Homo sapiens: one gene and its partner. The protein of the gene in region 1 purifies or fractionates together with the protein of each later gene. This does not show direct contact. Each region holds a gene or a part of one and is shown in the gene's direction. Other genes may lie near its edges.

Region 1 (3,747 bases):
AGAATCGCTTGAACCCGGGAGGCGGAAGTTGCAGGGAGCTGAAATCGCACCACTGCACTCCACCCTGGGTGACAGAATGAGTCTGTCGGTCTCACAAGAACAAAACAAACAAAAAACAAAAACCACCACCAAAAACAAAACAAAACAAAAACAAAAACTCCCTCCGCAGGCAGGAGATGTAAACACGCCAGCTCCCCAGCCCCACCTGTGATACCTACTGGCCCACATCCCTATTAGGACTCCCTGGTTCTCCCCAGTTCCTGCAATAAAATACAGAGCAAAATAGTGTGAAATTGATTAAACTCTACTGTTATCACTTCTGCCATATGTGACTGGCTCAAAACTCAATGGATCTGACTCAGCAAAAGACAAAGTCAAAATTTAAAGTTACTGCCTCGGCATTTTGCAAATGTCCTAGAAAAAAATTCAACGTCCTAGAAAAAGGTGAAAGCTAGCAAGATACTCTCAACGCTGTAGGAGTTGAGAAAGGGAGATATGTAACCTAAAATCAATGCATAGGGCTGGGCTTCATTTGCACCCACAAATTCCCAGCATACGCCTGCTATTTTTATTTTTATCCTCATTAGGTTTTAAGCTTCCCTGCTGCTTTCAGAGTCTTAAGCCCAAGTCTAATTTTTTAACGGATGAAGAATGCTGTTTAAAGGTGCTCAAATACCTTGGTTGGATAGTATGCTCAATCCTTATACCTTGGTTGATTCAATTTTGACAAATGCTTCCATTTACTAGTTGGTGACCCAACTTTAATCTTACTAGTGGCTTGACTAGGGTAGCTAGTATGACTTTGAACGCTATATTGAATTTAATGTGGCAACTGTAATGAGCATTTTACGTTATCTCACAACAAAATGGGGTAGATATGGTTCTATTTTATAAGTGACTGGACTAAGGTTAACCTGTCGGTCACACAGCTTGTCGGCAACAGACTTGAGTTTGGATCCTAGTCTGTTTATTTCCAAAGCGCTGTTATTTATCGGGAGCAACCCTAGGAGAATGCCTAGACACACACCCAAAAAAGCAGCCAGGCAGCAGAACGCGGGGTCACACTTCGACCCCTCAGAGAACGATCGCTCCCAATCAATACTACGTGCTCAGGAGCTACAACTGAAGAAGCGTGATCACGGCCTTGGCATTTAGGGCAGGCACCAGCGCATCTATGGACCGCGCACAAATTCCGGGGATGCCGAATTTGGGGGATGCTAAGGGGAGAGAGTGGGTCTCTAGCAGCGATTGGGGGCTCAGGAGCAGTTAGTGACAAATGAGCACCCGAAAAGTGAAAAGGTGACAGCAGTCCGCAGGTGCATCTACTGGCGAGCCTTCTCCATCCCCGAACCCAACCCTCCCCCGGGAGAAGGTCGCGCCAGGAGAGAAGCCGCGCGGCGCTTAGGGCAAGGTGCAGAGGGCGGCGCGGCGGTGCAGCGAGAAAGACGCGGAGAGAGGGCGCTGCTCTGTGGCTCTGCAACCTTCCGCCAGCTCCCACGCTTTCCCCGCGCGTCCCCGGCGCCTCCTCGCTCCTCTTGCTTCCCCGCGACCCCTGCGTTCCCGTGCGCGCGCGCCCGCTTGCCTGTTTCCTGTCGCCGTCGTTGCCCGGGCCATGGCGACCTGCATTTGGCTGCGGAGCTGTGGGGCCCGGCGCCTCGGGTCGACGTTTCCAGGCTGCCGCCTCCGCCCCCGCGCCGGCGGCCTGGTCCCTGCCTCCGGGCCTGCGCCCGGCCCGGCCCAGCTCCGCTGCTACGCTGGGCGCCTGGCGGGCCTCTCTGCGGCGCTGCTGCGCACCGACAGCTTCGTGGGCGGCCGCTGGCTCCCGGCCGCCGCCACCTTCCCCGTGCAAGACCCGGCCAGCGGCGCCGCTCTGGGCATGGTAGCCGACTGCGGGGTGCGAGAGGCCCGCGCCGCCGTGCGCGCTGCCTACGAGGCTTTCTGCCGCTGGAGGGAGGTCTCCGCCAAGGTGAGAGAGCCCGGATGCAGGGGGCCAGAGCTGGCCGGGGACACGGCGGGGAGCAGAGGGGGCTTTACCCCAAAGTGACACCAGCCGCGTCGCCTCCCTCCTGTGCTCAGTTCCCCAGGGTATACAAAGTGGAAAGTCAGAGCAACAAGGGAGACGACCGACAAATAAGTTTGGAGCTTCCACTTTGAGCCGGGCACTAGGGACACGACCCCTGCCCTCAAGCCTCATCAAGTTATGCACTGCCCAGTAGGGGAGGCAGAACGTGAGCGCCTAATACAAGCGAGCTGCTTGTTATGGTCAACAAGCCTAACCGTGGAGGGGCGGGGAGAAAGGGGAGGGGTGTCAGGGAAGTGAGAGCACGTGTGGCCCTTCAGAGTAGCTGAAATATCTCCGCAGCTGCAGGGAGCCCACGCAGGAGGCTGCTTCAGCGGCCCTTGAGAAGGCTGGTAGTGAGGGCCCCTGGCCAGAATCATGGGATCGGAAACGGAGAGAACTGTAGAAAGATTTGGGTTTTGTGCAGGGGAAGAGAGAAATCCAGGAGCGTTCTCCAGGTTTTCACCCTAAATGGATAAATGCTGCTATTGGCCATTGCATAGAGAACACTGGAGAATTGGGAGTAAGGGGTGGAGGGCCATTAAATGGGAAGAATAGAGTAAGAAGAAAACTAAGAAAGTAGTTTCTTCCTTCTAATATTATATTATTAAACCTGGAGTCAACGCAGTGAAATTTTTTACCGTGTCCTTCAAAGCTCTCCCTCTGAAGGAATGCATCCAGCGATCCCTACGAGTACAAGAGAGTCTTAGCACTCATTCATCCATCAGCTGTTTACTGAGCACCTGCTGTATGCCCTGCACTGTTGGAGGTGCTTGGGATACCTCAGTTAAACGAAAGAAGGATTCTGCCCTTATGGAGCTCACATGGGGTGGAAGGGGAGCAGAAGAGAGATCAGAACTCTAAACAACAAACATAATATCTAAGCAAATAAGTATGTGAGAGATGCTGAGTGCAATATGGAAAAAAGGTAGAAGCAGGAGAGGATCCGGGCCAGAGGGAAGGGGCAAGATGCAGCATCAACAGTGTGACCAGGCATATTCCTCTGCTAGGGCTGCCATAGCAAAGTACCACAGACTGGGTGGCCTGAACAACAGACATTTCTCATTTTACCGCTCTGGAGGGTAGAAATCCCAGATCGAGGTGTTGTCAGAGTTGGTTTCTTCTAAGGCCTCTCATTGGCTTGCAGAGAGCTCAGCTTTTGTCTTTGTATCTCATCAGACCTCAATTTTAGACTCATGGAGTCTGAGATGTCTGTTCACGCCCAAGTGAGGATGTAAAGTAAGCAGTTGGTTATATGAATGAATCTTCCCTGTGTGTCTCCACATGGTCTTTCCTCTGTGTGTATATGTGTCCTAATCTCTTCTTCTTTTAAAAACAGGAGTCAGATTGGATTGGGGCCCACCAGAATGACCTCATCATAACTTAATTCCCTTTTTAAAGACCCTATTTCCAAATGCACTCACATTCTGAGATACTGGGGGGTTAGGACTTCGACATGTCAATTTTGCCAGGAGCACCATTCAGCCCGTAACATCAGGGTAGGTCTCATTGAGGACATGAGATACAAAGACCAAAGGAGGTAAGTGTGTCCGGAGTTGGTTCCTGCCGGTAGGTTTGTGGCCTCGCTGACTTCAAAAATGGAGCCGCGGACCTTTGCAGTGAGTGTTACAGCTCTTAAAGATGGCATGGACCCAAAGAATGAGTGGTAGCAACATTTATTGTGAAGA
Region 2 (3,647 bases), on another chromosome or scaffold:
AAATTGGTCAAAAGAAAGGAGCTACAGGACCCATGAAAGTTCAAAACTCAGCAGGGCAGCCACTAAATCTTAAAGCTCCAAAATAATACCCTTTGACTCCATGTCCCACATCTAGGGCACACTGGTGCAAGGAATGGGCTCCCAAGGCCTTAGGCAGCTCTGTCCCTGTGGCTTTGCAGGGGCTCCTGAGGTTGCTCTCATGGGATGGCTTTGAGTGCCTATAGCTTTTGCAGGTGCAGGGTGCAAGCTGCCAGTGAATCTATCATTCTTGGGTCTGCAGGATGGTGGTTCTCTTCCCACAGCTCCTAGGCAGTGCCCCAGTGGGGACTTTGTGAGGGGGCTTCAATCCCACATTTCCCCTCTGCACTGTCATAGTAGAGGTTCTCCATGAGGGTTTCTACCCTGCAACAGACTTCTGCCTAGACACCCAGGCTTTTCCATACATTCTCTGAAATCTAGGTGGAGAATCCCAAGCCTCAACCCTTGCACTCTGTGCACTCACAGGCTTAATAACACATGGAAGCCACAAAGGCTCATGGCTTGCACCCTCTGGAGCTGTGGCCCAAGCTGTACCTGGGCCCTTTTGATCTGAGGCCAGAACCCTAGCAGAACCCGAGCAGCTGGGATGCAGGGAGCAGTGTCCTGAGGCTCTGTAGGGCAGAGGGGCTCTGGGCCTGACCCATGAAACCATTCTCTCCTTTTAGACCTCTGGCTCTGTGATGGGAGGGGCTGCTGAAAGGTCTCTGAAATGCCTCTGAGGTTTTTTCCCCATTGCCTTGGCTGTGTTTGAAGTTATGCTGATTTCTCTAGGAAGAGGTCTCTGAAATGCCTTTGAGGTTTTTTCCCCATTGTCTTGGCTGTCAGCCCTTGGCTTCTTTGTAGTTATGTGAATTTCTCTAGGAAGTCGTTGCTCTACAAGCCTGCTTGAAATCCTCTCTCAAAAACTTTTTCTTTCTTTGCCATGTGGCCAAGTTGCAAATTTTCCAAACTTTTCTGCTCTGCTTCCCTTTTAAATATAAGTTCCAACTTCAGGTCATTCCTTTGCCCTTGCATCTGCGCATAGGCTGTTAGAAACAGGCAGGAAACATCTTGAACACTTTGGTGCTTAGAAATTTCTTCTACCATATACCCTAGGCATCACTCTCAAGTTCAAACTTCCGCAGATCCCTAGGGCATGTACAGAATGCAGCCAAGTTCTTTGCTGAGGCAAACGTGTGATGTTTGTTCCAGTTCCCGATAAATTCCTCATTTCCATCTGAGACCTCATTAGCCTGGACTTTATTGTCTGTATGACTATCAGCATTTTGGTCACAATGAGTTAACCAGTCTCTAAAAAGTTCCAAACTTTCCCTCATCTTCCTGTCTCCTTCTGAGCCTTCTACACACTTCTAGTCTCTGCGTGTTACTCAATTCCAAAGCTGCTTCCATATTTTCAGGTATCTTTATAGCAATGCCCCACTCCTTGGTACCATTTTTTCTGTATTAGGTTGTTCTTGCATTGCTATAAAGAAATATCTGAGACTGTGTAATTTATAAGAAAATTTATAATCTGCAGGCTCTACAGGAAGCATGTGCTTCCTGTCACCACCATCTGCTTCTGGGGAGGCCTCAGGAAGCTTACAGTCATGGCAGAAGGCAAAGAGGGAGCAGGCATCTTACATAACAGGAGTGGGAATGAAAGAGAGAGCAAGGTGCCACACTGTTTTAAATGACCAGATCTCACAAGAAGTTACTGTGTAATTTAGAAGTAAATTATAAGAAAAAGGTTTAATTGCATCTCAGTTCTTCAGGCTGTACAGGAAACATCTGCTTCCTGGCACCACCATCTGCTTCTAGAGAGGCCTCAGGAAGCTTACAGTCATGGCAGAAGGCAAAGTGGGAGCAGGCATCTCACATAACAGGAATGGGAACAAGAGAGAGAATGAAGTGCCACCCAGTTTTAAATAGCCAGATCTTGTGAGAAGTCACTCACTGTGGTGAAGACAGCACCAAGGGAGTGGCGCTGAACCATTCATGAGAAATCCATTCCCGTGATCCAGTCACCTCCCACCAGGCCCCATCTCCAACACTGAGAATTACGATTTAACATGAGATTTGGTTGGGGACATATTGCCAAACTATATCAATGTTTTAGTTTGGATTTCATATCAGAGTAATTCTGATCTCATAAAATGAGCTGGAAAGTAGTCCCTCCTGTTCAGTTTCTTGGAAGAGTATGTGTAGATAGTATTATTCTTTCCTTATGTTTGGAGATTCACCAGTGAAGCCATCTGGCCTTGTAGTTTTCTTTGTGGGAAGGTTTTTAACTGTGAGTTCAACTTCTTTACTAGATGTAGGGCTATTCAGGTAACCCATTTTTTCTTGAATGAGCATTATTTGTTTGTTTCTCTCAAGGCATTTGTCCATTTCATTTGAGTTGTCAAATTTATTGCCATAAAAATATTTGGAATATTTTCTATTATCCTTTTAATATCTGTAGAGTATGTAGTGCTGTCTTCTCTCATTCCTGATACTGATAATTTGTGTTTTTTCTCCCTTTCCTGAGTCTGGATAGAGGCTTATCAATTGTATTGATCCTCTCAAAAAACTTTAGGTTTCATTGATTTTTCTCTTTTTCTATTTTTTGTTTCATTGGATTCTGCTCTGACATTTATAATTTGTCTTCTTTTACATGTTTTAATTTGCTCTTTTTTCTAAGTTCCCTAGTTGGAAGCTGAAGTCACTGATTTGAGTTCTTTCTTTGTCATTATTATTATTATTATTCTAGAAACAGACATTATTATTATTATTACTTTGCTCTGCCACCCAGGCTAAAGTGCAGTGGTGCAATCATAGCTCACTGCAGTCTTGAATGCCTAGGCTTAAGCAGTCCTCCCACTTCGGCCTCCTGAGTAGCTAGGACTACAGGTATGTGCCACCATGCCAGGCTAATTTTTTTTTTTTTTTTTTTTTTGAGACAGAGTTCCGCTCTTGTTGCCCAGGCTGGAGTGCAATGGCACAATCTCGGCTCTCCGCAACCTCCGCCTCCTGGGTTCAAGCAATTCTCCTGCCTCAGCCTCCTGAGTAGCTGGGATTACAGACATACGCCACCATGTCCAGCTAATTTTGTATTTTTAGTAGATACGGGGTTTCTCCATGTTGGTCAGGCTGGTCTCAAACTCCTGATCTCAGGTGATCCTCCTGTCTTGGCCTCCCAAAGTGCTGGGATTACAGGCATGAGCCACCGCACCCGGCCTGCCTAATTTTTTTTTTTTTTTAATTTTTTGTAGCGTTGGAATCTCACCAGGTTGTTCAGGTTGGTCTTGAACTCCTGGCCTCAAGTGATCCTCCCTCCTCGGCCTCGCAGAGTGTTGTTTTTCTTTCCTTAGTACGGGGGTTTAGTGCTGTAAATTTTCCCCAGAGTACTGCTTTAGTGGCTTCACACAACTTTTGATAATTTCGATATACTTTTTATTTTCATTTCATTTTAAATACATTCTAATTAATTTACTTTTTAATTTTATCTTTGACTTGTGTGGATGTTTTGTTTTGTTTTTAGATATTTGTTAGTTTCCAATTATTTGAGGATTTTTCTAGATTTTTTTATTTGTTTCTAATTTATTTCTGGTGTAGTCAGAGAATAAACTTTGTATAATTTGAGTCTTCGT

What was found. The genes of interacting proteins can lie anywhere in the genome.
Region 2: the proteins of ALDH5A1 (region 1) and ADI1 fractionate together in Homo sapiens (co-fractionation; one large-scale study listed by BioGRID). This does not show direct contact.

What each region holds. Positions count from the first base shown.
Region 1 is NC_000006.12:24,493,385-24,497,131, forward strand, and holds the start of ALDH5A1 (succinate-semialdehyde dehydrogenase, mitochondrial isoform 2 precursor), read left to right. Parts: upstream 1-1,612; coding exon 1,613-1,966; intron 1,967-3,747. Other genes in the region: GPLD1 (phosphatidylinositol-glycan-specific phospholipase D), read right to left, coding at 1,583-1,626. UniProt on the Homo sapiens protein: Catalyzes one step in the degradation of the inhibitory neurotransmitter gamma-aminobutyric acid (GABA).
Region 2 is NC_000002.12:3,509,450-3,513,096, reverse strand, and holds part of ADI1 (acireductone dioxygenase), read left to right. Parts: intron 1-3,647. UniProt on the Homo sapiens protein: Catalyzes 2 different reactions between oxygen and the acireductone 1,2-dihydroxy-3-keto-5-methylthiopentene (DHK-MTPene) depending upon the metal bound in the active site.